Regions from separate parts of the Homo sapiens genome. Here all the other regions are linked to region 4. The links come from fine-mapping of genetic effects on plasma protein levels. Region 4 holds a variant in brackets. A gene starts in each other region. All regions are shown on their forward strands.

Region 1 (5,417 bases), not on the chromosome of region 4:
AAAGTATATTGAAATTGGAAAAAAAAAAAAAAGGAGTGAAAAGAGCTATTTTTATAATTTATCCTTTTCCTAGCTTTAAATGTTTGGACTAAAAACTCCTAAGTTGTTTTGTTAATCCTTACAGTCGTTTTCTCTCACCAGCTCACCAGTTTTTTCTGGCTCCATTTTCTCCCATATTCTAGAGGTTGTGAACTGAGAAACTCCAGGGACCATCTTGTCCTCCACTGGAATGCACTTTGGTTCTTGCAAGCTTTTGAATCATCCAAAAGCTGAAGCAGGACTTCGGCTGCCCTGGCAGGACTTGAAACTGTAACACAAAAGTACCTGAGACAGGTCTCAATCAATTTAGGAAGTTTATTTTGCCAAGGTTAAGGATGGGCCAGTGACACAGCCTCAGGAGGTCTTGACATGTGCCCAAGGTGGTCAGGATACAGCTTGCTTTTATACATTTTAGGGAGACATGATACAGCAATCAATACATGTAAGATTTTTACATTGGTTCGATCTAGACGGGCAGGACAACTTGAAGCTGGGCGGGGGGTGGGTGTTTCCAGATCACAGGAAGATTTAAACATGTCCTGATTGGCAATTGGTTGATTGAAAAAGTTATTATCAATAGAAAGGATGTCTGGGTTATGATAAGGGGTTGTTAGACCCAGATTTTGTCACACAGACGAAGCCTCCACGTAGCAGGCTTTAGAGAAAACAGATCTTAAATGTTTCTTATCAGACTTATGGTCTATGTTGATGTTAATTACGCATGTCCAACCCCCCCATCCCCTTTTTCATGGCCTGAACCAGTCTTTCAGGTTAAATTTTAGAGTGCCCTGACTGGGGAAAGAGTCCATACAGATGGTCGTCCATTCAGATGGTTGTGGGGGGCCTTCAAATTTTATTTTTGGTTTACAAAACAGAAAATGGAAGCACCTTGCTTCCCACTTCAAAGCCCGTTTCATGACACACACTCCCATTAAATTACATGGGATACAAAACAAAGCTTTCTATGCTGGGAAAGAAATACACTCTACAACATCTTTTTTGAGGTTAGTAATTATGGAAAGCATTTTCTTCTGCAAAGGAATTCCACGCCCTATAAATTTAAATTATTAGCTTGTCATCTCCAAGAGATCAGCATCCTCATAAACGGTGAGAGAAGGAACACAGAATACAGGATCCAGCACAGTTTCGGGATTCTGGCTTCTTTGCCAGACTTATCTTTGCTTACTTCTTTGTATAGACTTACTTCTTTGCCAGACTTATCTTTGCTTACTTCTTTGTATAGACTTACTTCTTTGCCAGAAGTATATTCAAAAAAGTTCCGTGGAAGCATCAAATCAACCACCTCTACTTATGATTTCCATGCATCTCTGGAATGCATAAAGCATGATTTCAGAACATGTTCTAATTCTAAGACCCTTCTCTTCCCGGCAGTTTAAAAAAAACAAAAAACAAAACGTCGTATCTTTGAGCATTGGTTTTCAAACATCACAATCACTTTAACATGACCTGAAATGCTTGTGAAAACACAAACTGCTGGGCTCCAGCAGGTTTCTGACTCAACAGGTCTAGGGTGGTGCCTGGGAATTTGCATTTCTAACTAGAGTTCCCAGGTGGTGCTAATGTTCCCAGTTCAGAGACTTCAATTCGAGATCCACTGCAGTATCCATAACTTTTGCTGATTTCCTTCAAATCATGATACTTCAGGGCTCTCTGCATCACCTCTACTGAGGAGCCCTACCCATTAAAGCTGGGGTAGGTTGGCCCAAGAATGGAACCGGGATCGTTGAGATTTCAGCACCCCAGCATTTTTTAGTGACTGAAATAATGAAAATTCTGATCAGGCTCCTGCTTGCTTGCACATTTTAACCACTCGCTTTTTGCCCAATATTCTCCTTGTTTCCACAATATAATTATAAACTGCTGAGGTACTGCTTCCTCGTCAAGAACAAAGAGGTTAACTTCAGGGTCACAAAAATGTTTGCAGAAGGGATGAATACCTCCAAGGGCTTTGCAACCAGCTGCGGATGCCTGGACGTCTAATTGCTCAAAGGTGTTATCTGAGACTGAAGAAACAGACTTTTCCCCTGGATTCTTTGAAAATCCCCCTCTCTTATTCTCTAGCAGAATAAAAACTCCCTGCTTTTTCCTTTTTACACACGGATTTGAGAGATCTTGTTCTCCCTCCTTCTGGCTTTTACTAAATTGAATGTCTTTCTCTATCCCCAAGCACCAGTATGTCAGTGTTTGACATCAACTGCACCACTGATACACGAGTCGGAATTTGAGCTTCTACAAGTACATTCCTTCCTAGGCCAAACACTGACGCTAAGAAATACGAGAACAGATCATCGCTAAACAGCAGCTGAAGGTCAGGCGAACTGACTCGCTGCGGAATCTGCCTTTGCACGTGATCAGTCGGACGTCTACACCCGCAGCCGTCTTCTGTCTCCGCCTCACCCTCAGGCCTGACGGTCCGAGTGGAGCTGCGGGACAGCCCGAACCTCCAGGTCAGCCCCGCGGCCCTCCATGGCGCTGGTGCGCGCACTCGTCTGCTGCCTGCTGACTGCCTGGCACTGCCGCTCCGGCCTCGGGCTGCCCGTGGCGCCCGCAGGCGGCAGGAATCCTCCTCCGGCGATAGGTGAGTTGTCCGCGACCCTTCTCTTCCCAGCCGGCAAAGAGCGCGGAGCGGCGGCGCCTGCGCACAGCAGGAGAAAGTGCGTGGGGGCAGCTGCCCCCGGCAGAGGCTCGGGCTAGCGGGGCCCCTGACGCGTCCGGCGTTGACCACGGCTGGTGGGCGCGGGGAGGGCGACCAAGGGACTACAGCGTTAGGGCGTCCAGCCGGGAGGCCGGGGCTGGGCGGGGGAAATGCCCTCGCCGGTGGGGGCGCTCCAAGGGCGCGTCGGCCGGATTTCGCCAGCCTGGCTTTTGTTTACATCCTGCATCTCAGTTGTTTTGTTCCTTGGGGAAGGAAGGAAAAGCTGCGGGACTCAAGGGAAGAGGAAGCTGGGAGTCCGATGTCCAGCACAGCAAGAGGCCCCTAATCGGTCCTGAATGGAGGGGGACTGCAGTTTCCCCACCAGCTCAGGGAAGTAAATTTCAGCGTGACTCACACTATCTTCTGTCTTGCTCGACCGAGATCAGTGGCTTTTTCTGCCACTCACCCAGCCAGAGCGCGAAAGCACCCTCGGGTAGACTCACCCCTTAGTCTACCGTGGAACTCACGGGGACTTCATTTCACCTGGATGTCCACTAGGTTTCCTGCGGGCGGGACCCATTTTATTCACTCCCAGCACTTAACACAGTGCCCGTTACAGTAGTGATTCTCTTAAGTGTGCCCTGGACCGGTGGCAGCAGCCGCCGCACTTAAAATTGTTAGCATTGCAAATTTCCAGCCCATCCCAGACCTACTGAATCTGAAACGCCGGCGTTGGGCTTCCACAGTATGCTGTTTAACCCACCCTCCGCATGATTCCTTTCGGCTAAGTTTGAGACTCACTGGTCCAGAATAGATACATTTTGGTGGGAGATTGTACAATGCCATCCGAGCCTCCAGTTCCAAAAATCAAGGTGCCCTCACCTCCTCAACTCCCTTTAAAAATAATTGCACTGTTAAGAGGAAAAACAAAATTAGAGAAGTGGGGTTCTGTTTTCTTTTAGGGGAGAGTTGTCCCTGAGACTCGGTAGCAGCACCTAGTGCTGAAACCTCTTTCGCTCCCTCTGTGCTTTCTCAGGACTTGGGAGCGCTCTAGGGCAAATATCTTCTCTTTGAAGGCCAAGTCCTCACGACTCAGCTGTCAGGTCTGAAGCAAAAACTGTAAATCTGGTTTCCGAACTGTGGCAAATGTCAGTCATTACAAGAAATTTCCCCAAAATGTTTATGTATACTGGTTTCTGCTTTTATTACGGCTTAGCTTGTGTTCCTTTAATTATGTGACCGGTTAGGGTTTTGAAATAAAATGTCTCACGTTGCTTGAGGCCACACAATGGCAAATTCACCTGTGTTTTAAAGAGGCCTGAATGAGCGCTTTCTGGGGACTCTGTGAGTCTTCACACCTCCTGTTTGGGAAACTGCAAGGTTGAATCCCCTCCTACTAAAGGGGAAGGAAGAGGGGTTACTGGAGTTCAGTGGTCTGAAGTGTTACTGGAGTCACTGGAGTTCGAAAGTCTGAAGTGTTACTGGAGTTCAAAGGTCTGAAGTGTTCACTCAGCAGTTTCACAATTCTCCTTGTTTGTAATATTTTGCGTATTTTCCACTTGATGTGACAACTCTCCTGCCTCCTCTCAGCCCCACATGCTTGGACTTCCTTTCAGCATCCACCCTGCCTGGCTACTGCTTTCTTGTTTTGTGTTTTTGCGTTTAAATTCCCAGTCTTAGTTTTCTGCCCTGTCAAGTCCTGGTGGTCGGACGACAGAAGTTCTAGGAAGCTTCACCTGTGTGTTTTTGGCTACAGTTCTTTAGATTGAGTAGGCTGGGACTGGCTTGTGTATTGGTACTGTTAAAGCAAACTAAATACGGCCTGAGAAGGACTCCTTACTTCTATATTTGAATCCTTGTGAATGAACTGTAACCTAGCTTAATAGTCAGATGAGACTGAAAACCTAACTTAAGAGTATGCACTGGTAACAATAGCTAAGTTTGGCCAATCCCAGCAGCCATACTTCAACCATTCATATACTGCTGAGTGTTCAAACTATGTTCAAATAAGGCATAAGGCGAGCTGAATTATGTCTGAACTATGGTTCATTGGATTCTTGAGAAGTTATAAAATATTTTGGATTAAAAGATTTTCTGGTATAATTTTGAGAGTTTTTCTAGATTTGCTGAACACACACACATATTTTTGGAAGTCTTTTTAAAAATTTATTTTATTATTTTATTTTATTTTTTATTTTGAGACAGTCTCGCCCTGTCACCCAGGCTGGACTGCAGTGGCGCAATCTCGGCTCACTGCAAACTCCGCCTCCCGGGTTCACGCCATTCTCCTGCCTCAGCCTCCCGAGTAGCTGGGACTACAGGCGCCCGCCACCATGCCTGGCTAATTTTTTGTACTTTTAGTAGAGACGGGGTTTCACCGTGTTAGCCAGGATGGTCTCAATTTCCTGACCTCGTGATCTGCCCATCTCAGCCTCCCAAAGTGCTGGGATTACAGGCATGAGCCACCGCGCCCGACTTGGAAATCTTTTTAAAGATAGTCTGCAGAACAGGAAAACGTGCTGTAGTAAACAGAACTTTGGACTTTGAACTAGGAAACATGGATTGGAGTGTGGGCTCTGCCACAGGCCAGGCCTTGGAAACACACATAGGCACACAGTTTCGTTAGGAGAGGGACATGAGGCTTCCAGATGTTCATTATTCATGAGTCCCAGGTTAAGAACCTGTCAGAGCTCTGTTCTTGGCTTCTGTTTAAAGACATCTT
Region 2 (5,370 bases), not on the chromosome of region 4:
ACTTCACGCATCACTGAAAAGTCCCAAAGCAGACCTCCATCCTGCCGCCACCCAGCCTGCCCATGCTCTGCACCCCAAACCCTCTTCCTGGAGCAGCCGGTGGCTGGTTTGTCCCCTCCCACCTGACCGACCCACCCTAGGTTCCATCCTGTTTCCTCCCAAGGACTTGGCTCCCTCCAGCTTTCCTTCTCCCCGCTCCCTTGTCAGCTATGCCCCCTCTAAGCAGATCTGCACACCCCAAACTTGCCTTTCTCACAACAACAGAGGAAGCCCCCGGCCCCTCCCACTCACTATCACGGTTTTCTGCTTCACTCAATGGTTTGAGACAGTGCCCCGACCCCTACTGCCCCGCTCCTCTTCAGCCCTTTCTCTCTTGCTAAAGGTCACTTCTCCACTGTCATCCGAGCTGACCACTCTCCGGCAGCAGTCAGCACAGCGGTCGCTCCATCCTTCTGGAAGCACCTCCTGCCTGGGCTTCTGGAGTTCCACTTGGCAGTGCAGGGCGTCCCATGGCCTGCCCCCGAGCCCTATCCTTCTATGCCCAACCCAACCCGGCGACAGCAGTCCTGGCCCAGAGGCAGAGCTCGGATGGATGAGCAGTTTCGGTTCTGGCCTCTCCGTCTACTCCTGCCTGAAGCATCTGGACCCGGCCTAACCAGCTCACTGAGGTATGCACAAGCTTCTCCCACGGCCAAACTCAATCCTTCATCCCACCAGCCCCATCTGGGAACGGGCTTATTACTCACACTGTGGGCTAACACAAGTGTCCTGAATACGTTTAATGCAGACAAAGCCAGGCCAGGGTGTGCAGGAGGCTGGGTGTGTCAAACACATTTTCCACTCATGGTGTTTTCAACTTACGAGGGGGTTGTCGGGACATGACCCCACAGTTAAGTCAAGGAGCATCTGTAACTGTGCAAAGTCTACAGCACCATGAAGAAAAATAAATCCGGGAGATAATTCAGGAAGTGGGGTGTCATATGCATAGGGTGGCTGAGGAAGACCCCGCTGAGGTGACATCCATAGGAGGGAGGGAGGGAGCCATGGGACCTCAGGGAGAGAGGAGGTGCCTGGTGGGAGAAGCTACCTCCCTGCTCCACTCTCCGCAGGAGCAGGGGAGCAAGGGCGGACTGGGAGGGAGCCCGATGGTGAAGGCTCTTGAAGGCCAGAGGGTTCTGTCTTTTATCTGAGTGGAATCCTGAGAGGGTTTCAAGCCAAAGAACATGTTCTGATGGGTTGTCACAGGCTCACTGTGGCCTCAGGGGCAGAGGCCAGGAGACCAGTGAGGGCAGTCGGCAGTGGGGCGGTGTGGCTTAGACCTGGAGGAGGCGGTGGGCGGTGCGTGATTTCTGCATCTGCTTCGAAGGTAGAACCGACAAGACTTGTGGGTGGATTATATGAGGGACAGAAAACAGAGGAGTCGGGTACCAGTCCAGGCTTTTGCCTGCATAGCCGGAAGGACAGCCAGGGAGGACTGGGGAAGAAATGGGCTGTCAGGTGACAGTAGTGGAAGGAGCCATCCAGACCTGAAGGTCTGAGGCTGGAGGTGTCAGGTGACCGGGACAGCGGGCGAGTGGGCAGGTGGATGTCAAGCTGAGTTCAGGTGAAGGGTTGGTCCTGGGGAAGCTGACACTCAGAACTCTGAGGAGCAGACAGCTGGGGAGAGGGGAAGGAGTGGCCAGGGAGGTGGAGGCGGGCAGTATGGTGCAGGAGAAGGAAGCATCCTGGGGAGACGTGATCAGGAGAATGCTTCACGGTGGGCCCCAGGTGGCAGTGGAAAGAACAGTGCCGGTGGAGTGGCAGAGGTGGGACTGAGGCTGGAGTGGGTTCAAGGGTAGAGAAGAGGAAGTGGAGGGACTCCAGATACTTCCCTAGGGAGCCCAGAATTGGGGCGGGGTGGGGCCGGGGGCTTTGTGTTCCTTTTTTCCAGGTGGGAGAGCTTCCCTGAGTGGGAAGGGACGGGCTCAGTGAGGGGACAAGACAGTTGATCCTGGGGGAGAGGAGGGAAGACAAATGGAGGACCTGCTGCCTTGGCTGGCAAATGGCCAGGGCCCCGTGGAAGTCCCCTTCTGGTGGCTTCTATTCCTCAGTGAAAGAGGAAGCGAGTGCCTGGGCCTGGGTGCGCTGAGAAGGAGGTTTCAGGAGAAAGTGGGGTGAAGCAGTCATCCGCCCAGAGAGAGTCCCCTGGGGAAATGCGGCAGGGCTGACCCCTGGCCAGGGTCCCACATCCATCTGAAAGCCATCTCCTTTCTACCCGCAGTCCTTCACAGACGCACATCTTGTCACCTGACTCCCTCTCAAAGAGTTCAAGGCTTCCCACAGGCACCTGTTGACCTTTCTATTCTCCCCTCACCCTCACCCCACCCTCAAAGGCTCTTTCACTTCCTCAGCGGGTGCCAGGCCTGGACACTTCCCCTAGACTCTGCCCAGTCCTCTGCCTCTAGCCCCACCCACACCCTGCAGCCCGCCCAAGGTCTCCCAGACCTTCCAGCTCCATCCACATCAAAGGGACCTTTGAACGATCAGAAGTGTGTTCCAGCCCCCGGGGGAGACGCCACGGATGCCACAGCTTCAGCTGGCTGGCTCTGGGGTCCAGACCCTACCCCCAGAGCAAGAACCCCTCATTCACAAGACTGAGCCCATCAGACATCCTGGCACAAAGCCCAGGCTTCCGGGCTCAAATCTCAGCTGTCACTCACACTATGCTCAAGCCTCCCCATCTCTCTGCAAAAAGCCTGCTTCCTCATCTGCAAACTGGAAGCAATCATGGCATTGAGGAGGCGTCAGTGAGATGGAGCACACGCAAACGCATGTCCCCCAGCCTTGGCCCACAGCGGCAGCCACACTGTAGTCTATCCTTTTCACATGGGTGTACAGCAGGCCTGACCCATGAGGACCAAGGCCAGGGAAGAGGCAACAGCACCACAGTGCTCATGGGCCAAACTCCCAGGCCACGCAAGTCCCATCTCCAGGGGAAATCCAGGCTCCTGGACCCTGTGCTGTGACTGGAGAGGGGATAGCAGAGTCCCTTCCAAATGCTGTGGGGTGGGCCTGGGGCTGGTTTGCAGCTGTCCCTTCTCCCGCCTTCTCTCCCAAAGCAGGGTGCAGCAGCCTCGTTGATAGGGAGGGCCTTAGTTTCCCCTTCCTCTTTGCTAAGAGCCTCCCTACCCTACTCCTGCCAAAAGCCTAAGATAGAAACCCACCAGGCTGGAGGTAGTGACCAGGTTAGGCCATGGGCTGTAGCCAACTAGCCTCACCCAATATTCCAAGCCCAGGACAGGCTTTCATCTGTGCTGAGAAGCAGTTTACTTCTGTATCCTCAAATACAGCCTGGGGACTCAGTGATTTTGCATTTCTGTTTCTATCCCAATGGCTGAGGTCACAAGCTTTGGGGGAGAGAGGGCACCTGGCAGCCACTTGTCACTGGGATTCAGTCCTAGTCCTGCCTGTCACCCAAAAGCCCCAGAATGACCCAGCTTGGGTCACCTCAGCAGAGGGCAAAGGCCCGCGCTCCTCGGCCTTAGCACCCCAGCCCAGGCTGACCTGGCCTTGAATCACAGGCCCCTGGAACCGCGGGCTGAGCTGCCTGGGCCTATAAACAGGCAGCCGGGATGGGCTTTCCTGGCCCACAGTCAAAGGGCGGCCACTCACCCGCCATAGCGCTGGTGCTGGCGTGGGCCCAGCAGGAGCCGCAGTATTGGGGGATGTGCTGGTTCCGGGTGATGCTGGCATAGTTGACACCATCCACATTGCGCCAGTCCCAGCTCTTGGGCAGATCCGCTGGGGACAGGTACTCATGAGGCCGGGGGTATGTGCTGAGAAGAGATCATCCCCACCCAGATCGGTGCTGGGGCTCCCGGGGGCCGTGGGCCCAGGAAGCCCTCGGTAGGGCCCTCCCGCCTTTCCCAACACCTGAGGGCATGGGAGTGGGGCCACAATCACCAGAGGTGAGCCAGGTGTGGGCCCACCTCACACTAGGAGGCTCCAGCGCTCTCAGAATGTGAAGGAGGCAGGGCACCCCCGAAAGGAGGGAACCGGGTTGCTCCCCCAGCCATGCCGCGCCGTAAGGGCCACCCCCAGAGGCCGAGGAGGTGGGGCTGGCCTGGCTTTCTGGCCAGGTGGGGCTTGTCCAACCCCACAAACATCAGGGCTCACCCTGGATGTGGAAGAGAAGGAGCGACCCCCAAAACGAAGCGGCTGGATCTGACCTTCCAAGGCCTGTTGGCGACGCAGGGCCCCCAGGAGGCAGAGCGCGCGCCTGGCCCGGGCGATGGGCCTCCCGTCCCCCCAGGGCTGCCTCCCCGCCGGTGCCCACCTGCGCCCCAGCGGAGCCAGCCCGTCCCCCCGCAGAGGCCGGTAGCAGGTCTGTCCCCGGCGGAAGTAGAGGCCGCCCTGCGCCGCGCCCGCCAGCAGCACGAGCAGCAGAAGCGGCCGCCACCCTGGCCCGCGCCTCGCCATGGCCCCGCGCCGGCTCCTGGGTCCCGCTCCGGATCCCGCTCCGAGTCCCAGATCCCGCGCCGGCTCCCGCTCTGGATCCCGCCCCGGCCTCGGCCTCGGCCCAGCACCCGGCCGACCCCGCACTTTGGGCCCCTGCCCCGCCCGGCCCTTAAGGCTGCGGCGGCCAGGCCGGGACACTCCCCCGGGGCGGGGCTGTCCCATCGCTGCTCCTGCCCCGCCCGGTGACCCCTGCCCTCCCCGCCCGGCTCCGCGCCCCGCTCCCTCCCTGGCTCCGGGGCACCTGAACTCGCGGGCCAGGCGCGAGGTCGCCGGGCAGACCCCAGCCTGACCCCGCCGCCGGCCGCCGCCCTGAGCGCGGGACTGTCCGGCTGGACTCATTTGCCGGGGTTCCTGGCTTCGGGGTGGGGGGCCGCAGGCTCATGGGCCCCCTTGGCCCTGCATTCCTGGGGCCCTGAGCCCTGGGGAGAGGCCCCCAGCCTCACATCTGGGCCCAGGCCTCCCCTAGGAAGGGATCCTGGGATGCGGCCACCGCCCCCAAAGAAGGGTCCCCGCGCCTGGCTTTCTAAACCCCTTTTCCCAAAGGCCCAGGCCCTTTCGGGGGGACGGTTCCCTTTTGCAGAGAAGGAAGGAGGGATCCTTCTAGAAAATGCCCCAAAGGAAGATTCCACTTGGCGCAGGCATCAGGAGTTATCCAATGTGACTTCCAAAGACGCCTTGAAAAGGTTTTCTGCTAACGAAACTCTTCTTAGTCAAATGAGGAACCAAAAGCAGAAGTGGCCCCCCAGGACGTGGTTTTGTAACTGGGGGAGGGCTTCTCGCTCCCTGCGGCCCCTCTGTTTGTCATGGCCCTTGGGCCCACACCATGGCCTTCTTCTCTGGTAAGAACAGGGCCCGGCATTCTGGGCTGCGACC
Region 3 (5,417 bases), not on the chromosome of region 4:
ATTGAGGGCTCCAGCACTTTCGTGGTCATAAAGCAGTCTAATTGTTTAGACCAACGTTTTTAAAAATAAAATAATAAAGAACATACATGTTGTAAGGTTAAGCACTGTTTTATATTAATAAAACTTGTTTCATTTATATACACTCACATTGGAGTTTACAGAGTTGAGGCAGAGAATAAATTAGTTATTGAGGATTGCAGTAAAAGGAAAAAAAAGTTTAAAGAAACTTAGTGTTAAGGAAGTGTGCTTGAAATAAAAAATCTGGAGTGTTGCAAATGGATGAAAGGCACTGGGTAGCTGCCTCATAAAATATATTTTAAGCCAATATAATAAAAAGATCAGAAGACTAAATAATGTTATCCACATTGACTTAAAAAATTAACTGTGGCTTGGAAATACCAAGAAGGAACTAAAAGTCTCAACTGACATGGCATCATCAATATGCATGCTATTCCACAATGAGAGGAGCATGATGCCTTCACTGGGTAGTTTCCACGAAGTCAGGCAATATTTGGACAAGTAGAAATGAGGGTAAATCAGAGTGAAGAAAGAGCAATGGACAATTCTGTAATTACAAAGGCCTTACAAATTATATGAAAGAAAAAAGATAAACATCTTATGGTAAGTGAGGATGTGGGTGGTGAAAAGTAAGATACAGGAGTCATGAGTCAAGCCACTGGAATGATCATGCCATCTCTGAGTGAAATGAAGTTAGAATACCTCTCTTGGCTTCAATTTTTCATAAATGGATGGTTTGAGTATTGAATCTCCAAAGTGAGAAAGGGATCTCGAGAATGCTAGGGCTGGAAGATACTCCTGATTGTTTTTAAGGTTTTGTTATCTTAATCTAGGAAAGTATTATTTTTCCTATTTAACAGATAGATTAAGTTACACTGTTACTCTAGCTAATGAAAACATGTTACATTTCTCACTAGAGGTTAAGAGGAAAGACAGTCTGGTAACATCTGCCTAGTAAGTAATGAAGACTAATATTCAAAATTCAGGGAACAACTCCTATATCTCATATTTAAACAGTATTTAGCACATTTGTTTCTCTGTATGGAGACAAGATTAAGAGGTCAGGTGAGATCCTTTTAAGAAATGTAGAAAAGTGGTGATTGAATTAATAATTACATCATGTTATGCTGTGGTTGGCTTTTAGATTTCCATCTAATCTTAAAAAGAAGAAGAAAAATAACCCCACTACATGTTGCATCAGGCATTTTAAGTAAAACGTGCAATTTAAAAAATATTTTTAAAATGTGTGGAGATAGAACAAAACAATGGAATTGTTATTATTATCAGAAACTTCTACGTAAAAATGTTGGTTAAAGCAATATATAAAGATTGATTCTCGGTACAAATTGCTTGGAAAGTTTAACATGTGCACTAGATTTCAGATATTAAAAGTTAAATTAAAAAAAAGAATCTAATGGCAGCGTGTGACTTTAACCTCATGGATTTTAGCCACAAACGCAAAGAAAAATATATACAATAAAAGAAGCAACAGATTTTCCCACAAGCAGAGATTTTCTAATTAAAATGCTGTCACTTTAATATTTTTTAGCTATAGAATTTGACTGTAAATGTCTTCATTATGTAGTGTAACTTCTATAGCAAGTTATGTTAACGTTTTCAAGAATCGGAAATATTGGTAACTCGATGGGGTTCTTAAAACAGAAATAGTTTCTTTGATGAGTTGGAAAGAGAAGGAAATAAAAGTCTAAGGTAAGCGCCAGTTTCACCCTCAATTCTTAGGCTTCAGAAAAGCCTAATTAGGCAGGGAAAGGAATCTGGGCCTGGCACACCCAAGCTTAGACGTGGCAGGATCCTGAAACAATGTTTTTTTGAACCTTTGAGTCATATGCCACAGGCAAACCATAGCCGCGATATGCAGGTCCTTAAGTCAACAGGTCCTCTAACGAGATGGTGAGTGGTTGGTGCGTGGCAGTTGGATTTCTTCCCGCCACGGAAGAAAAGAACTCTTCTCCATTGATCAGGAAAGTGGGCCCAACTCTGGCCTGGAGAGCGCACCCGGAAAAGTGCAGAGTCGAAACAGAGAGAGAGGGGTGTCCGCGTCCCGGCCACAGAGCCCTTTCCAAACCACTCGGAAACCATTTAAATGGCTCGGCGGCCGCGGTTTGCAGCCTAGAACTGTTTGGGGTCCCCGGCTAGGAAAGTTGCCTGGCAAAGCCATGTCTTTCGCTGTCGCGGGATGTCCTCTCGGGCAGAGAGGCTGGAGGAGACAGGCAACCTGCTAGCCGGAGTGGAAGCGCGCCCGCCTCCCGCCGGGCCCTCCCTCTCAGGGTCCCCACGCTGCGACCCTCCCAAGGGCAAGTCCGGGGCCACCAGGTCTTTGGTCTCCGTCCAGCTCCTCAGGGGCCGCCCCATAGGGACTGGCGGGGGCACCGTGGGCGAGAGGGTGTGACCGGGCTCCCCCCCGAGGCGCCACCTGCCCCTTGGCCCAGGGCGCCCCTTTCGGGATCTCTCCAGGGGCAACCGACACACTGCTCTCGAGACCGTCTCCAACCGGCCACCTGGACCGTAGCCCTGTCCCCAACACGTGAACCCCTGCGGCCGTCCTCCCGCCTGCTCTAACGCAGCCCAGGGGTACCGCGTCTCCCTCCGCCTGCCGCCGGCTTACCTGGCGGGTGGGCAGGGCAGGGTGGCGGGAAGCGGCGGCCGGGCAGGCGCTGGACGTGGGCTAGGCGCCAGGTGCAGGTGGCGGCGGCTGCGACTCCGGTTGCTGTCGCCACAGTTGCGGCTCAGTAGAGCTCCTCCTCCGCCGCCGCCTCCTGCCTTCCCGCTGGGCCTCCCGCGTTGCCTGGAGAGGCAGAACCGAGGCTCGGCTTCCACTTGGAGTCTCCCAGGTGAGCTCCAGCCTGCGACGTCGGCAGGGGCGAGGCCCCACTTCCGCGCCTGCGCGCCAGCCTCCCGCCCCGCCCCAGCCCTACCTGAGCGCTCCAGGTGAGAACCTTGGATCGCGCGCGCAGGGTGGGGGCGCCGTCCGGGCCAAGCCTGGCTGTCGCGCGGCTTCTCTCTGAGTGGTCGGCGAGGCTGCTGCTCCGCGCAAGTTGTGGCTCCCGGCCCATCTACATTGGAGGAATCCTGCACTGACCTGGTGGCAGTGATCACCTTGTAGCCAGAACACAGTCTGCTGGGTCCTTGGGGAACCAGAAGTTCTAGATTTCCCCCACACGGTTCCTCCCTTCCTCCTCGGTTCGCCAAAATGAAGGGGTGCGCTGCCTCCGAGGACCACTTCGGGAGGGCAGCAACTGCTGGCTCATGTGGTTTCTTCGGGCAGGGTTCAGCAGCTTCTGTCACCAGTTAGGTTTCGTGAGCTTCCTTCCCGTGTAGTCTTGATTTCATCACTTGACTCACTTCAGCGCAGCTAGTGGTTTCCGTTTCTGTACGCGGGCGCTCTGGTAGGGGCGCCTCACGTCCAAAGGAGGAGTCTTCTTCCAAAGAAGAGCCTTTGGTATTTGGCAGAGCCTCGCCAATTTGGGGCGCACCTCCCCTTCCTGGGATGCTCTCAGAAGGCAAACCAATTCCCAGAAGAGAGGGAAAAACAGCCACAACAGAGAGAACCTTTGCTGTCCCTGTTTGGAAAGAGATTGGGATTTCCTGGAGAGGGCTTGCTTCTACTGCAGGTTTGTTTAAAAGCTCAACATCTATTCTGGAAGAGAACAACGCAGACTCCAGGAAGATGGTGGGTTTTGCTGTTTTTAAGACAAAAAAAAATTGTTAAACAGTATTTGTTCCATTTATGACACAACTTTCTGTTTCAGCCTTCCTTCTGCTGCTGCAACAAACATTGACACACCCAAAACCAGGACTTAAAATGGCCTTTATACCTTTCTATGAACTCATTTCTTTGGCCCTATCCCAAAGATATCTAGGGATATAAATAGAAAACTAGCTAAAAACTTTTTGGTGTCGTGTTTAATCACATGGTGGTAGGTTTTACTATGAAGTTTAGTTGTGGCCTTCCTCCTACATTTTGACATGCTCTTATGGTGCTTATTCACTGTTTTATTAGTGCTATGCGTGACCTAAAAATAAGGTTTAAAATACAGTTTAGTATAGTATCAACAAGTGTATCTTTAGTATTTGACTACTCTAAGACATTGGTTTTAGCATCCATAGTGCTATTTTATACTAGGACATCTATGAGTTAGGGTTTAAGACTTTAGTAAACTAGGTAGTTCTTTGCTTGTTTTACATGTCATGGTTATTTTGCGAGCACCAAGGAACCTCCATGTATTTGCAACATTTTAATATCAGTACCTACAAGCAATTGCCAAGCTCCCTTTCCCTCCAAAAACAAACAAACAAAAAAATAGTTCAGGAGATACTTGTGTGTATTGATATACTAACTTGGCAGTGTTTTTCCTTAGGTCCAGGTCCAGAACTGAAAATACTAACTACTGAAATTCTCTTCTCCTTCTCCTTCTTCTTCGTTGTGCCACTTTGTCGTTTACCCCTAACCAGAGGTTAATGTTAGTCTTTGGAAAATTTGTAAGGTATCCTAAATGTATAACCAAGAAACCTGTACCCTTTTGCACGCACCACCCATCTCTGAATGAAGAGCCAAAGATTGTCAGAGTTTTGATGTCCCACCAGGCGAAGAGCAACACTTTTCACTGACAATCAGGACAGAGCAGATGGATATAGAATAACAATCTGGAATCCAAGGACTGAGATGCATTGACAGCAAGACTAGTAACGTCAAATAACAACTGAAAAGAGAAGCTAGGGTAGACCTATTAAAAGAGAGAGCCAGCAAACAGGACCAAAATGCTGGATGAGGAGTCTAAAAAGAACAGAAGAAACAAAAAAGATCAGGAGTTACTAAAATTTGACTGTCAGTTTTACAATGGAGACAGACAATTTAAAGAAGGAAGCAGTTTTTCTGAGTGTGGCATTACTTGTGCACGTTGAGTGTCATATATATAGAGAGAGAGAAAGAGAGAGAGTGAGAGAGAGTGAGAGAGAGAGAGAGAGAGATATCTTGGGGATGAGACCTGTCTAAACACAAAATTCATTTATGTTTCATATACACCTTATACACATAGCCTTAAGGTAATTTTATAAAACATTGTAAATAATTTTATGCATGAAACAAAGTTTGTGTAAAGTACTTATGTGTGGAATTTTCAACTTGTGGTGTCATGTTGGTGCTCAAAAAGTTTTGAATTTTGGAACATTTCAGATTTTGGATCTGTGGATTAGGGATGCTCCACCTGTACTATTTTACACAACGTTGCTTGTACTATTTCAAAGCATTCTGAAAGCAAAGTCTTAATATTAATAAAAAATTTTCTATGTGACAATAAAATTAAAATGCTGCAGGCCCAAGAAAAAAATATTATCATATTGAAATATTTAATGCCCCAAATCTAATCAGATGCAGGTTT
Region 4 (4,943 bases):
CAAGCAGGCTCCGCCGGCGACCGCTGACGGGCGCTGGGCTCGCGGCGCTGCAAGGCGGCGAGGCCCGGGCCTGGCGCCGCCTGCGCAGCCTTGGTCGCGGCGTGCCGGCGCTGCAGCGCGGCAGGGGGCGGGGCCGGCCGCCCGGAGGCCCAAGTGGCGGGGACGCCTCCCTGCCGGGTCAGGTTCTCAGAGCGGGTCTCCGGCGGCGGCGACGGGGGCCGGGCCGCGCGTGACCCGCCGCAGTCACGCCGTTCTTAATCACTAGTAGCTGGTGCTCCAGGCTGGCGGCGCTCACCTTTCTCCTAGCCGGGTGACCCAGGGGATTTATTTTATGTTGGCTTTCTCTGAAATGCCAAAGCCACCCGATTATTCAGAGCTGAGTGACTCTTTAACGCTTGCCGTGGGAACAGGAAGATTTTCGGGACCATTGTAAGTGCTTAGGAGTTACTGTCTTAACTTGGGGGCTTGACTTGTAGCACCCCGCGTTCACGTCTGAAGCAGTACTGTTATGCCAGAAAGTGTTTCACCTGTCAAAGTGAAATGTGCTGTGAGAAACTAGTTTAATTCCAGTTTCTGGAGGGCGGGTATTATGGACCTGTTTAAGTAGGATGCAGTGATTTATTCTGAGGGATTCCCGTTAAAAAGCAGAACTCAGTATATACTGAAATCAATGGTTTTTTGTTTTTTTGTGTGTGTTGTTTTACTTGATTGTAAGTATTACACAAAACAACCTGTAAGTTTTACATTTCTTAATAGGTGTTTAATTTAATTATTTTAAATCTTAAGTGTGTTAGTGGGATATTTTAGAATTCTTTTTTTTTTTTTTTAATTAGACAGAGTCTCGCTCTGTCGCCCAGGCTGGAGTGCAGTGGCGTGATCTCGGCTCTCTGCAAGCTCTGCCTCCTGGGTTCACGCCATTCTCCTGCCTCAGCCTCCCGAGTAGCTGGGACTACAGGTGCCCGCCACCACGCCCGGCTATTTTTTTTGTATTTTTAGTAGAGACGGGATTTCACCATGTTAGCCAGGATGGTCTCTATCACCTGACCTCGTGATCCACCCGCCTCAGCCTCCCAAAGTGCTGGGATTACAGGCGCGAGCCACCGCGCCCGGCCTAGAATTCTTGGAGATAAAGCAAGTACATTTGGAGTAGTTGCCGTGACAGCATTACTAGACCCTAATTGTATTTTCTTTTTTAATTTGAAGGCACAGAGCATGGAGAATGATGAACTTCCGTCAGCGGATGGGATGGATTGGAGTGGGATTGTATCTGTTAGCCAGTGCAGCAGCATTTTACTATGTTTTTGAAATCAGTGAGACTTACAACAGGCTGGCCTTGGAACACATTCAACAGCACCCTGAGGAGCCCCTTGAAGGAACCACATGGACACACTCCTTGAAAGCTCAATTACTCTCCTTGCCTTTTTGGGTGTGGACAGTTATTTTTCTGGTACCTTACTTACAGATGTTTTTGTTCCTATACTCTTGTACAAGAGCTGATCCCAAAACAGTGGGCTACTGTATCATCCCTATATGCTTGGCAGTTATTTGCAATCGCCACCAGGCATTTGTCAA[G/T]GCTTCTAATCAGATCAGCAGACTACAACTGATTGACACGTAAAATCAGTCACCGTTTTTTCCCTACGATTACAAAACTGCCAGTCCTATATGGAGTCTGATCACAAGACTGCAGTTTCTTCACAGATCTCAGGAAGTTGTCGTGGGGCAGAGGCTTTTTAAAAACATGTGATTAGGGAGCTATCTTTATCTGAATAATAACGAATTTTTAGGTAAAACCTGAGATAGAGTACTACAAAATCATGTTGATGACTTCAGATTTTGGAAGTTAAATCATGTCTGTTATTTGCATTCTTTAGAAACTTGACTAAGTACCTGAATTCATATTTCTATTCTACTGTGCAACATAGTGATGATTCAGAAATTTTTCCTTTGGGGAAAAAAATGAATATGAACATTTCCATTGTGTTAAGTGTAAAAAGGTCCAGACATGATCATAAAATTTAAATTTTATACAATTACTTGGCTTGCTTTAAAATTCTTCACACTTAAAACACCGATTCATTCTATTGCAGCTAAGCCAGCTGTCTAGACTTGCTGTCAGCTTATGAGGCATTGCTAAAAAATTATTGAGGAAATGGCTGTCTTGATAAGCAGAATTTGTTCTTCCTCTTGGTAATGGCTAAATTATTATTAATGCTTTTAATGGTTTTATTTTTTATATTTTTCTTTTTTGTGGAGAATGGGGTCTCGCTATGTTGCCCAGGCAGGTCTCGAACTCCTGGGCTCAAGCTTTCCTCCTCTCTCTGGCTCCCTAAGTGCTAGGATTACAGGTGTGAGCTACCATGCCCAGCTATTTTTAATTAAAAAAATTTTTTTTTTCCATGACTTGTGACACAGTCTCAGAAGGCCCTGAGAACGTACGCTCCAATGCTACTGATTTAGAAAACTATCTGGGAAGAAACTAAGTGTTAAATGTTGAAAGGCTAGAAATAACTTACAAATAGAAGATGGAAACAATGTGTTCAATGAAAATCTAGCAGGTTATTTATTATTTATTTAAATTATTATTATTATTTTTGAGACGGAGCCTTGCTTTGTCACCCAGGATGGAGTGCAGTGGTGCAGTCTTGGCTCACTGGAACCTTCGGCTCACTGCAACCTCCACCTCTCGGGTTTAAGCGATTCTCTTGCCTCAGCCTCCTGAGTAGCTGGGATTACAGGTGACCACCACCATGCCTGGCTGATTTTTGTTATTTTAGTAGAGACAGGGTTGCAGCATGTTGGCCAGGCTGGTCTCAAACTCCTCACCTAACTAAGGTAATCCACTTGCGTCAGCCTCCCAAAGGCCTGGGATTACAGGCATGAGCCACCATGCCTAGCTGTATTTATTTATGTTATTTATTTTGAGATGGAGTCTTGCTCTGTAGCCCAGACTGGTGTGCAGAAGTGCGATCTCAGCTCACTGCAACCTCCACCTCCCAGGTTCATGCTATTCTCCTGCCTCAGACTCCCGAGTAGCTGGGATTACAGGCACCCACCACCATGCCTGGCTAATTTTTGTATTTTTAGTAGAGACGGGGTTTCACCATGTTGTCCAGGCTGGTCCCGAACTCCTGACCTCAAGTGATACACCTCAGCCTCCCAAAGTACTAGGATAACAGGCATGAGCCACCATGGCCAGCCTATAGCAGGTAATTTAGTCCAGTCCTTATCAGATGCATGAGACCCCTCTAAAAGATGCTATCAAGTCATAATCTTTCTGATTTTCTTTTCTGGCCCAAGGTCAGGTCATCAGGCAGTAGGTTAATTACATGAAGATGTGTTCCTGTACCTTCTCCTTTGCATTTGTACTACCTCACATCTGGTACTAATACAAATAACTAAAACATGGACACAGTAGCATTTCTTTTCTGCATGAGATCAAGATATATTTTTATACAGTTATGTCATTAATACTGGAAAACATTTTATGCTTTTAATAATCAACACTTTTTGATGCTTATTCTGTTGGGCCCTATTCTAAGAGCTTTATGGAAATTAACTAATGTAATCCTCCCAACAACCCTATAAGATGGGTATTATTATCCAGATTTCACAGATAAGGAAACTGAGGCAGAGAAGTCAAGTAACTTGCCAAAGGTCACAGCGAGTAGCAGAGCCAGGGTTATAACCAGGCATTCTAACGCCATCGTTACTAACCACAGAGGCATAGCGCTTCTCACAAATGACAAATGTTTTAGCACTGGGTACTCTTTGCCCAGTCATGCCAAAGAATGGAAATGGCAATAGTATTGACAAGTTTTTCTCTATTTGTCTACTAGAAATCTGAAAGTTTCCTAGCAACCTCATCTTTCCACTACATCTGACTGAACCCGAAAGGAAGGCTGAGTATTCCATAGCAAGCTGTTACTTAAAAGATAAAGCAGGTACCTTTGTGATGTAAAAGTAGCAGATCAGATCCTTCAGATCAATTAGTCTCATTTATCTCACTGCCTCCAAAGGTCTAGTTACTGAAATGATATATCTTTTGATATAACACGTGGAATCCTCAAAGTAAGCAGCAGTTTGAAATACTTGTTTTTGTGAGGGTCAGATGACCAAATCACTTGCATCTTTTAAGTATTCAGTATGCATGTTACAGACATTGTTTATGAGTGATTTACATTTATTCTTCACAACAGTCCTGGGAGGCAGGTATTATACTGCTACTAGTGTCATTTTACAGAAGAAACCTGAAACACGTAGGAATAACTTGTCCATAGTCACATAGCCAGTATGTGAAAGAGCCGATTTGAACCTAGGATGTTGGCTTCAGATCTCCAGCTTTTTATCATTCTATACTGCTTCTCAAAAAGGAGAGTAATTTGAGGGAAATCATTGAGAGTTGCCAGTTTTATTAGTCTTGAGGCAGTGATTTAAGAAAATTATTTCAGTTTTGTTTTGTTTTATAAATGCTTTATGTAGGCTGGGAGTGGTGGCATCTGTAATCCTAGCACTTTGGGAGGCAGAGATGGGAGGATAGCCTGAGCCCAGGAGTTCATGACCAGCCTGGGCAACATGGCGAGACCCCATTTCTATTAAAAAGGGGTGGCTCATGCTACTCCCAGCACTTTGGGAGTCTGAGGTGGGCAGATCACTTGAAGCCAGGAGTTCAAGACCAGCCTGGCCAACGTGGTGAAACCCTGTCTCTACTAAAAATAGAAAAATTAGCCACGGCTGGTGGTGCATGCCTGTAATCCCAGCTACTCAGGAGGCTGAGGGAGGAGAATCGCTTGAACCCAGGAGGGAGAGTGGCAGTGAGCCAAGATCGCATGGGCCACAAGAGCAAGATTCCATTGCAAAAAAAAAAAAAAAAAAAAAAAAAGGTTATGTAATGCAAGGTTTGTGAGGTTGCCACTGGTATTGCAAAGTTTTCTTAATGAAGTTGA
Region 5 (5,087 bases), not on the chromosome of region 4:
ACGGAACTCCTCCAGGACCAGGGCACCTTCAGATTCTCGAGCGGAGATCTGATCCTCCTCGCCTAGCGGTCCGGGCTCAGGGTCGGGGGCGTAAGTCACTTGGCGCTGACCAGCGGAGTCGGGCCGGGGGGAAGGCGCTAGAGGGAGCCCAGGAGGAGCCGGTACCGGGCTGCGGGCGCTTCCGCCTCGGCCCCGCCCCGTGACCTGTGACCCTTGCGGGGCGGGGCCGGGGGCGGGGCCGGGGGCGGGGCCGGGGGCGGGCCGGGGCGAGGGGCGTTGCTGCGCGTGCTCGCTCCGAGGCCGCCGTGTGCGCCTGAGGCTGTTGGCTGCGGTCTTGAAACGGGCTCTGGGAGCTTCCTCTGCGCGGTCGGCCCTGGCTGAGGCGTCCCGGGCTGCGCGCGGGGCTCGGCGCTGCGCAGTGTCCGGTGTCCTCTCGGTCCGGAGCTTCTCCAGAGGAGGAGCGGCTCGTGCGCCCCCAGACCTCCGGTACTGGGAGACTCGGGCCCTCCTGTAAGAGACCTGAGCGCGGAGCGTTATGGGCACCCGGTGAATGAGCAAATGGCAGGGAAAACCGTGCAGCCCCATGGACTGCGGGCTCTTCCTTCACGACTAGCAAAAGCTTTGACACCCTTTCTCCTGCGTACGCGTGTCTGTGTGCGTGTAAGCTGTGGCTGGGTGCGGGGGGCTGTGTACGTGTCTGTGTGTGGTGTGTGTGGAGTGTTTGAGGCAGGTGTGTGGTGTTTCAGGTGTGTGTGCATGTGTGGTGTTTGAGGTGTGTGTGTGTGTTTTTGTAGTGTTTGAGGGATATGTGTGTGTGGTGTTTGAGGTGGGTGTGTGGTGTTTGAGGGGTGTGTGTGTGTGGTTGAGGGGTGTGTTTGGTGTTTGAGGGGTGTGTGTGGTTGAGGTGTATGGTGGTTGAGGTGTGTGTAGTGTTTGAGGCACGTATGTGTGTGGTGTTGGGTGTGTGTGGTGTTAGAGGTGTGGCGTATGTGTGTTTGCGGTGGTTGAGGTGTGTGTGTGTGTCTGGTGTTTAGGGTGTGTCTGTTGTGTGCGTGTGGTGGTGGAGGCGTGGTGTGGTGTGGAATGTGTGTCTGGGGTCCAGTCTGGCCTGTTGCAGGGTTACGCTGCTGGGGAAAAACTCATCTGAGGACAACGTGATTGGGTCCTCGCTCCCTCGTTGGGCAGCCTTGGACTTAACCTTTTTGATCTTGAAGGAAAACACAATATGTCACCTCCAAATATATTTCCTTGACACGGTTCAAGACAGTTACTCAGAAGGACTGGAAATAGAAGAATAGCTGAAAAGCTGTCTTTTGTGGGGGAGATTTGCATCTGTGGAGAGAATCTACACTGATGCGGCCAGGCCTCCTCTGAGGCCCTCCTTGCCTGATCTGGGAAGAGTAACAGTCTGACGCCTTTAAAGGCCTGAAGGGAACATTCACCATCTGTTCTCTCTCAGGGCTGCTACCTGTGAGGTTTCATCTGTAGAACAAGGCCACCTTTGCTAGCCAGGCCTCCTCTGCTCTCCCTCCTGTAACCGGTCTTGCCACTGGTCACCTGATTTTCCACCATAAACTGTGGCCATACTTTGAGCCCATGTTCTTTCTGTAACCTCAAGATGGTATATAAGCTTCCGAACCCCATTGGGAGGTTGGGGTCATCACTCTGGTTCTCCCTGTGTGCATGAATAAATCTGTATGCCTTTTTTCTTACTAACCTGGCTTTTGTCAGTTGATTTTCTGTGAACTCAGAATGCAGAAAAGTTTTTCTCTAGGCTCCTACAGTTTTGGTGCAGTCGGTAGGATAACTAAAGTCACTCTCCTGGGAGCCTCCGTCAGGGGAACCCAGGAGCCGACAAGCTGGCAGAAAGAAGGGTAAGAAGGTCTTAGCAGCCAGGCTCCCGGCCTCTCTGGAATCTTGTCAAGCCGACGGTAAAAATGTCTGTTTACCTTGTTTTCCTCTTCAAAGTTTTAATGAGAGAAATGTATTTATGTGATTAGTTTTGTATTCATATTGTTTGATTGCTTTTTTTCCCCAGAAATAGTCGTCTTTCATTCTTGTCTTTCTGTGTTTTTCTGTCATAAAGAGGGTAGAACACAGGCCTAAAACCCCTGTAAACCCCGTCTTGGGGCCGTCCTGCAGGCTAGTCAGTTTTGCAGCTCTGATCGGATGCGTCTAGTTAGACAGACTTTGCTGTGGGTCCCTGAACTGAAAACTGGATGAGATTCTCCTCTCTTTTGATGTCCTTGAAAGCTTGAGTTGTGAGCGAGTGGGAATGATGCAGGCCAGGCAGACCCCAGAGTGGAGCTTAGCCAGTGAGGGTTTTGGCTTTGCCCAGGAAAGAATTCAAAGACAAGCCAGAGGTAGAAGAAAACAGCTTTATTGAACAGGTGGCGTTAGAGCTCTGTGACTGCTCCTGCAGAGCAGGGCCACCCCGTAGGCTGAGAGTAGCAGCTCAGGGCAGTTTTGCAGTCACATTTATACGCACTTTTGATTGCATGTAGATTAAAGGATGGTTTATGCAGAAGTTTCTAGGGAAGGAGTAGTCATCATTGGGTCATTGCCATGGAAAGGGGTGGCAACTCCTGGGTGTTGCCATGGCAATGGTAAACTGACATGGCACAGTGGCGGGCATATCTGACTGAAAGCTGCTATTGCCCCAACCCTGTTTTAGCCAATCCTCAACTGGGTCAACTAAGTCCCACCTCCTACCTCAGGAGCACTCTCTTGGCCTCTGCCAATCCGAGGTAGTGACTCGCAGGTCACATTTTGTGGTCAGTCTGAAAATGGTTGGGAACCCAAGACATTTAATATTTTAAGCAGCACCGTTTTTGTTCTGAATGTGTCAAGCTTTTAGTTTGTCTTAAGAAGTCCCTGCCAGGCGAGCTGTCAGAGCCCCGGCACTGGGAGTGGTGGTCAACTTGCGGGTTGGTAAAAAGAGTTTACCGACAATAGGTTTGAAAAAGGAAAGTTTGGCCGGGCATAGTGGCTCATGCTTGTACTCTCAGCACTTTGGAAGTCCAAGGTGGGTGGATCACCTGAGGTCAGGAGTTTGAGACCAGCCTGGCCAACATGGAGAAACCCTGTCTCTACTGAAAGTATAAAACTTAGCCAGGTGTGGTGGTGCGTGGCTGTAATCCCAGCTACTTGGAAGGCTGAGGCAGGAGAATTGCTTGAACCTGGGAGGCGGAGGTTGCAGTGAGCTGAGACAGAGCAAGACTGTCTCAAAAAAAAAAAGAAAAAAGAAAGTTTGCCGGGCACGGTGGCTCACGCCTGTAATCCCAGCACTTTGGGATGCTGAGGCAGGTGGATCACCTGAGGGCAGGAGTTCAAGACCAGCCTGGCCAACATGATGAAACCCCATCTCTACTAAAAATACAAAAAATTAGCTGGGCATGGTGTCGGGAGCCTGTATTCCCAGCTACTTGGGAGGCTGAGGCAGGAGAATCGCTTGAACCTGGGAGATGGAGGTTGTGGTGAGCTGAGATCATACCATTGCACTCCAGCCTGGGCAACAAGAGTGAAACTCCATCTCAAAAAAAAAAAAAAGAAAAAAAAAGAAAAGAAAGAAAGTTTATTAGAATGCTGCAGAAGAGTGCAATGAGGTGCCTCAGCAAGAGGACTGAGTACGCCGGGTGGATTTCTCCTTAAGGGCATTTATAGGCCTTAAAGTGGAGGCTTAACAGTAATTTGGACCATATTAGCCACGTAAGTCATGATAAATGATTACATTTATAGTAATTTTGGTGCCTTAATGTCAGCGACGGTTGTACAGTGAGTTTCGTCATGGTATTCTGGAGACACATAGAAATTATAGTTACTTACACGTTTTTTGGGGGAAGAAATCTGGAACCAGATGCCTGCTTTAGATAATAGGGAGGTTTAGTTACTTTTGATTTTCCCCAGATAAGGAGTTTTGCCTCGGAGGGCCTGTTTGATGTTTGATGGTCGCCAGGTGGTTTTTGCTCTCCTCAGGCCCATCCATAAGGGGCTTTTGTCATCCCAATGTTTGTTGCCTGGTCAGTCCTCAGAAAGCCCAATCCCAACAGGCCTACCCTGTGTTACAGGTTAATGGGTCTGTGACTGGCAGCCCCTGACAGATTGTGTGTTACTGGAGGCACTGTATGTACAAACACGTTCCTTAACTGTCTCTGGGAACAAGAGTCTTTTGCTGTCTTTGCCTATTCCTGGGAGTGAATTTTGGGGGCATCATTGGAACCTCCTCTTCTATGCCCTCTCTAAACCTGGAAAATAATCTTTTGGGCTTTCCATGAAGGGGCTTCTTGGATTGAGTTGCTATTGGAATAAATACATCATTGGAAATTCTGATTGTCAATAGCCAAAAGATGAATCCTTTACATTAGAAAGATCCCTAAATTAAAAAAAAAAAAAGATTTTAGAGGTCTCTCATTCTAAACAATTGCCTTATTTGTATTTGTGGGGAGATTAAAGGAAAGACACATAATAATGTTGTGGCTAGCCTTAGAAATCCTCTTCACAAAATTAAAGAGCAAAAATCTGACCTGTAACAAGTTAAAATCCTTTGTGCGCGCAAACCATTGCTTTGGATCCCTGCAGGATTCACAATGAAGACTGCTGCATCTTGGAAACTACTTAAAATTCTGTACTTTCACTACCATGGCCTGGGTTCAATTCCCAATAGAGGAACCAGTCCCTTTTGGTTTGATATTTGTGTGACTTTTGAATTCTTTCTTTTGTTTTTTTTTTGGAGACGGAGTCTTGCTCTGTCGCCCAGGCTGGAGTGCAGTGGCATGATCTTGGCTCACTGCACCCTCTGCCTCCTGGGTTTAAGCAATTCTCCTGCCTCAGCCTCTGGAGTAGCTGGGATTACAGGTGTGAGCCACCACGCCCGGCTGATTTTTTTGTGTGTGTGTATTTTTAGTAGAGATGGGGTTTCACCATGTTGGCCAGGCTGGTCTCGAACTCCTGACCTCGTGATCCTCCCGCCTTGGCCTCCCAGAGTGCTGGGATTACAGGTGTGAGCCACCACGCCCAGCTAATTTTCTTTTTTTTTCTTTTTTTTTTTTGTATTTTTAGTAGACATGGGGTTTCACCGTGTTGGCCAG
Region 6 (3,016 bases), not on the chromosome of region 4:
TACAGAACCCTGGATGATGTCATCTGGCGCTATCTCTCCAGACATTTCTTGTGCCACTGTCTTCACCATCATCTCTTAATAGACTCCTAAAAAATTCAATAATGAAGAATAACTCAGGAGGACCTTCACATAGGAATATTGTGAAAAGCCTCAAAAACAAACACACAAAAAATCCTTACAGATGTTCTAAATCAAATGACTTGTTTCCAATTTAAAGCTGCTTCTCATTATTCATATTTATTGAAAGTACTTTTGAAATATCTTTTGTTACCATGAGGCTATAGTTTATCATATAATGACTCCAGTTGAAAAACTGCTTATTCTTCTCAGAGAATGAAGTCACTAAACTTCTGTAAGGTTCTAAAGGTCCTTCAGTGCATGGATCCCAGGATTTTCCAGGCCAGTAAAAAAAAATTAATGAGGCCTTGGCACAGGAGGGTCCAAATTTTTATTCTGCCAAATGGAGATGTTAAAACAAAACAAATTCCATGCACATAACATCTACCTCTGCCGTTATTTTTAAGAACACGTTTGCAACAATGAAAACTTGAAGTCCATACAATCAGAGTAAAGATTAACATTCTAAATTAATAATTTTAGTTTTGCATTCTTATTTTTCCAGTTTCATTGAAAACCTGTGAAAACAGCTTCCCAAAGTGACACCAGTGGCCAGACTAGACTTTGATAATCGCTGTTCTAGATAAGAACTATTATATCCATTGAGAGGTTGTTAATTCTTCTTCTGAAAATAGCTATCAAAATACTTTTGCTAGAATAAATAAAGCTATTGAGAAAGAAGAAAAAACAGCCTCCAACACCTGAAACTGCTCTGAGTCCCACAGCTATCTCTCAATATTATTACAAGCCGATCTGACACTCACAGCCAGGTAAGCTCTGTTTTCCTCCTGGACATCAACAATCCCACAGATACCTACGTCGGATAAGATTATTCTGAGACATGACACACCAAGACAAAGCAATGCCACTTGAAGATTTTCTCTAAGAACAGACAAAAACAAGGGCACCTGCAACGCACAAAACACCAAACATCCCCTTCTCGTGCTAAACAGAATGGCTGTTCCTTCTTTACTCAGTCAGAATTGCCCCACCTTCTAACAGCATTCTATCTACAGCAAAGCCCGGTTCCTCAGTCTTACCCCAAATCATGCAACCGAAGTTCAAATTCTGTAATGGGTTTTTTTCTATAACCTACCGTCCGTCGCTCATGGTGTGTGGTCTCCTTTGCCTCAAAGAACACTAAACCCAATTTGTTCAGCTTATGGTGTGTTCCTGGTGGTCTTTCAATGAAGGGCCCTGACAGTATCAAAGTATCAAAGTCTCTCCCAATTCCCATAAAACCAACTACCGTCAAGCAAATTAATTCCCTACCCACAATGGAGCAATTTTATTTTAAGGCCTTTAATCGTGTCCACATACATGTTCTGTGTATTTTCCTATTACAGGAAAAACTGTATATACTATTCTGGATTCTACTTTTATCTGCTGAACATTATATCAATTTTAATGGCTAAATCATATCCCACCATGATTTTAAAGAATTTCTCCTTACAGGTATAAAAGAAGACAATGCACATCTTGCTTCCACTTTCAATAACCTACCTAAACTATTCAAGACCATCACCATCTAGCCTCAGGCCAGATGCGCCAGGTTCCTACTTATCCGATTCTGTTGGCAAAGACAAACGCAGTCTGATTGCTTTATAAAGAAATGAATTATGAAAGAGTACTGGGCGTCAAGAGGCTCGGACGTTACGCATGTTCAGTAAACAACAGTGTAACCTCTGGCTAAATATTTTCTCACTCTAGGTCTACTTCCTCTTCTGTAAAATGAAAGAGTCACGCTCGTCCCTCACTGTCTCTTGCAGTTAGGAAGTCCGTAGCCCTGTGACTTGCTCGTGGGAAAGAGCCACGGGACAGGCGATCCCATGACTTGGGTGCAAAAGGCCACAGGGGGCCCTTTGGGGCCTGCTCTGGGCTGCTCGCACCGCCCAAGCTTGGGACCACTCAGCGTTTCCCACGGCCCTGCAGTATCCTGGGCTGAACTCCTGAACTTCTTCGGGAGAAAGCACCTGACCATCAGGCAGTCTGTCCTTGATTGAGTAATGCACACAGGTCCACCGGAACATTTTATTTAAACACTTCAAAATGCAAGGGCCTGGAACTGGTTATTCAAGTACACTCACTCAAATCTAAGAATGTGCGAATCACACCCAGGTATCCTGCAGAGACTAGGATTTCCTTTAAAGGAGTTCTAGTTGCAGGTAGCACCGAATCTACCGAGGACGGGGTTCGCCAGCCCGCTCTGCACCCACACCCCTGTGCACGAAACCACAGACCCCCGTAAAGAAGCTGCCCAGCACGAGGTGTTCCTTGTACCCGCTCGCGCCGCCACACCTGCGCCTCCATCCGCGCCCGCACCTGCACGCCCCTCTCTGCGCCTCGGCTCAAGCTCACTCACCGGCGGCGCGTGCTGCGCGACGGCACAGCTGACGGCGGCAGCCAGGAGGACTAAGGCGACGCAACTCCGGCCCGGCATCGCTCTAGCAGCCAACGCCACTCCCCGGACTCCAGCAGAGGCAAAGAAGAGCCGGCTGGGCCGGGGGCAGGCCACGCCCCCTCCGCCGCGTGACCCGCGACCTGGGACCGCACCATTCCAGGCAGTAGGGGGAACGCTCGGAGGAGGCGGGACTGGGAGGAGAGGACGGGGCTTTTCAGTGCCACGAAAAGGGTGGCGTAGAGAAAGAGAGAGAGCCTTCCAGGCTACCTGCAGAAGGAGAGTCGCGATCGCCTTTGGCGCGTGGCGTGATCCATCCCCCTCCCCCACCGCGGGCAATAGTCGGACCGAGCCGGAGCCCCGCCCCGTAGGTGGGGCCGGGAGCTTCACCCGTGGCGCCTCGATGGGGCGCCTCTAGCAGGCGGGTGCAGCCTGTCCCGCGTACCCAGGCGTCCTCGGTACCCACGAAACGGATCCAAAGAGTCTCAACACTAATGTAAC

Alleles and levels. Alleles are on the strand shown, and positions count from the first base shown. The strength of an association depends on the size of the effect and on how common the allele is.
As copies of G replace T in region 4, the plasma level of the protein whose gene starts at base 2,438 in region 1 goes down (moderate association).
For the plasma level of the protein whose gene starts at base 4,584 in region 2, allele T in region 4 goes with a higher level than allele G (weak association).
With allele T in place of G in region 4, the plasma level of the protein whose gene starts at base 2,877 in region 3 is higher (weak association).
With allele T in place of G in region 4, the plasma level of the protein whose gene starts at base 188 in region 5 is higher (weak association).
As copies of T replace G in region 4, the plasma level of the protein whose gene starts at base 2,606 in region 6 goes up (weak association).

What was found. PIP is the posterior inclusion probability: the model's chance that the variant is causal. The UK Biobank Pharma Proteomics Project read protein levels with antibody pairs (Olink). The fine-mapping took linkage between variants from a reference panel, not from the people measured, so its PIPs are less certain.
Region 1: SMPDL3A starts here. The variant in region 4 is fine-mapped to the plasma level of the SMPDL3A protein (UK Biobank, PIP above 0.99).
Region 2: it holds the start of CTSZ, and the variant in region 4 is fine-mapped to the plasma level of the CTSZ protein (UK Biobank, PIP above 0.99).
Region 3: it holds the start of GALNT3, and the variant in region 4 is fine-mapped to the plasma level of the GALNT3 protein (UK Biobank, PIP above 0.99).
Region 5: ARSA starts here. The variant in region 4 is fine-mapped to the plasma level of the ARSA protein (UK Biobank, PIP above 0.99).
Region 6: ASAH1 starts here. The variant in region 4 is fine-mapped to the plasma level of the ASAH1 protein (UK Biobank, PIP 0.95).

Annotation. Positions count from the first base shown.
Region 1 is chr6:122,786,821-122,792,237 of GRCh38, forward strand. It overlaps SMPDL3A (sphingomyelin phosphodiesterase acid like 3A), which reads left to right and starts at 2,438. Exons shown (of 8, transcript NM_006714.5): 1 at 2,438-2,638. The coding sequence starts at 2,527. RefSeq lists enhancers at 2,248-2,749, 2,750-3,249, 4,353-4,522, silencers at 2,464-2,758, 3,864-4,158 and a cis regulatory region at 4,438.
Region 2 is chr20:59,002,671-59,008,040 of GRCh38, forward strand. It overlaps CTSZ (cathepsin Z), which reads right to left and starts at 4,584. Exons shown (of 6, transcript NM_001336.4): 1 at 4,316-4,584; 2 at 3,652-3,815. The coding sequence starts at 4,458. RefSeq lists enhancers at 2,018-2,067, 2,078-2,137, 2,378-2,687, 3,836-4,647, 5,328-5,370 and a silencer at 4,268-4,867.
Region 3 is chr2:165,791,371-165,796,787 of GRCh38, forward strand. GALNT3 (polypeptide N-acetylgalactosaminyltransferase 3) reads right to left here and starts at 2,877. Exons shown (of 11, transcript NM_004482.4): 1 at 2,645-2,877. It overlaps LOC124906086, which reads left to right and starts at 2,216. Exons shown (of 6, transcript XM_047446887.1): 1 at 2,216-2,422; 2 at 2,549-2,967; 3 at 3,430-3,709. The coding sequence starts at 2,216. RefSeq lists enhancers at 1,627-2,533, 2,534-3,439 and silencers at 2,510-2,599, 2,670-2,819.
Region 4 is chr14:93,185,057-93,189,999 of GRCh38, forward strand. LYSET (lysosomal enzyme trafficking factor) reads left to right here and starts at 261. Exons shown (of 2, transcript NM_001098621.4): 1 at 261-429; 2 at 1,204-3,407. The coding sequence starts at 350. The coding sequence ends at 1,615. The variant G/T (reference allele first, on the strand shown) is at 1,573.
Region 5 is chr22:50,627,965-50,633,051 of GRCh38, forward strand. It overlaps ARSA (arylsulfatase A), which reads right to left and starts at 188. Exons shown (of 8, transcript NM_000487.6): 1 at 1-188. LOC124905149 (a long non-coding RNA gene) reads left to right here and starts at 3,530. Exons shown (of 2, transcript XR_007068161.1): 1 at 3,530-5,087. RefSeq lists a silencer at 83-272.
Region 6 is chr8:18,081,502-18,084,517 of GRCh38, forward strand. It overlaps ASAH1 (N-acylsphingosine amidohydrolase 1), which reads right to left and starts at 2,606. Exons shown (of 14, transcript NM_177924.5): 1 at 2,480-2,606. The coding sequence starts at 2,557. RefSeq lists enhancers at 2,063-2,172, 2,973-3,016 and a silencer at 2,523-2,722.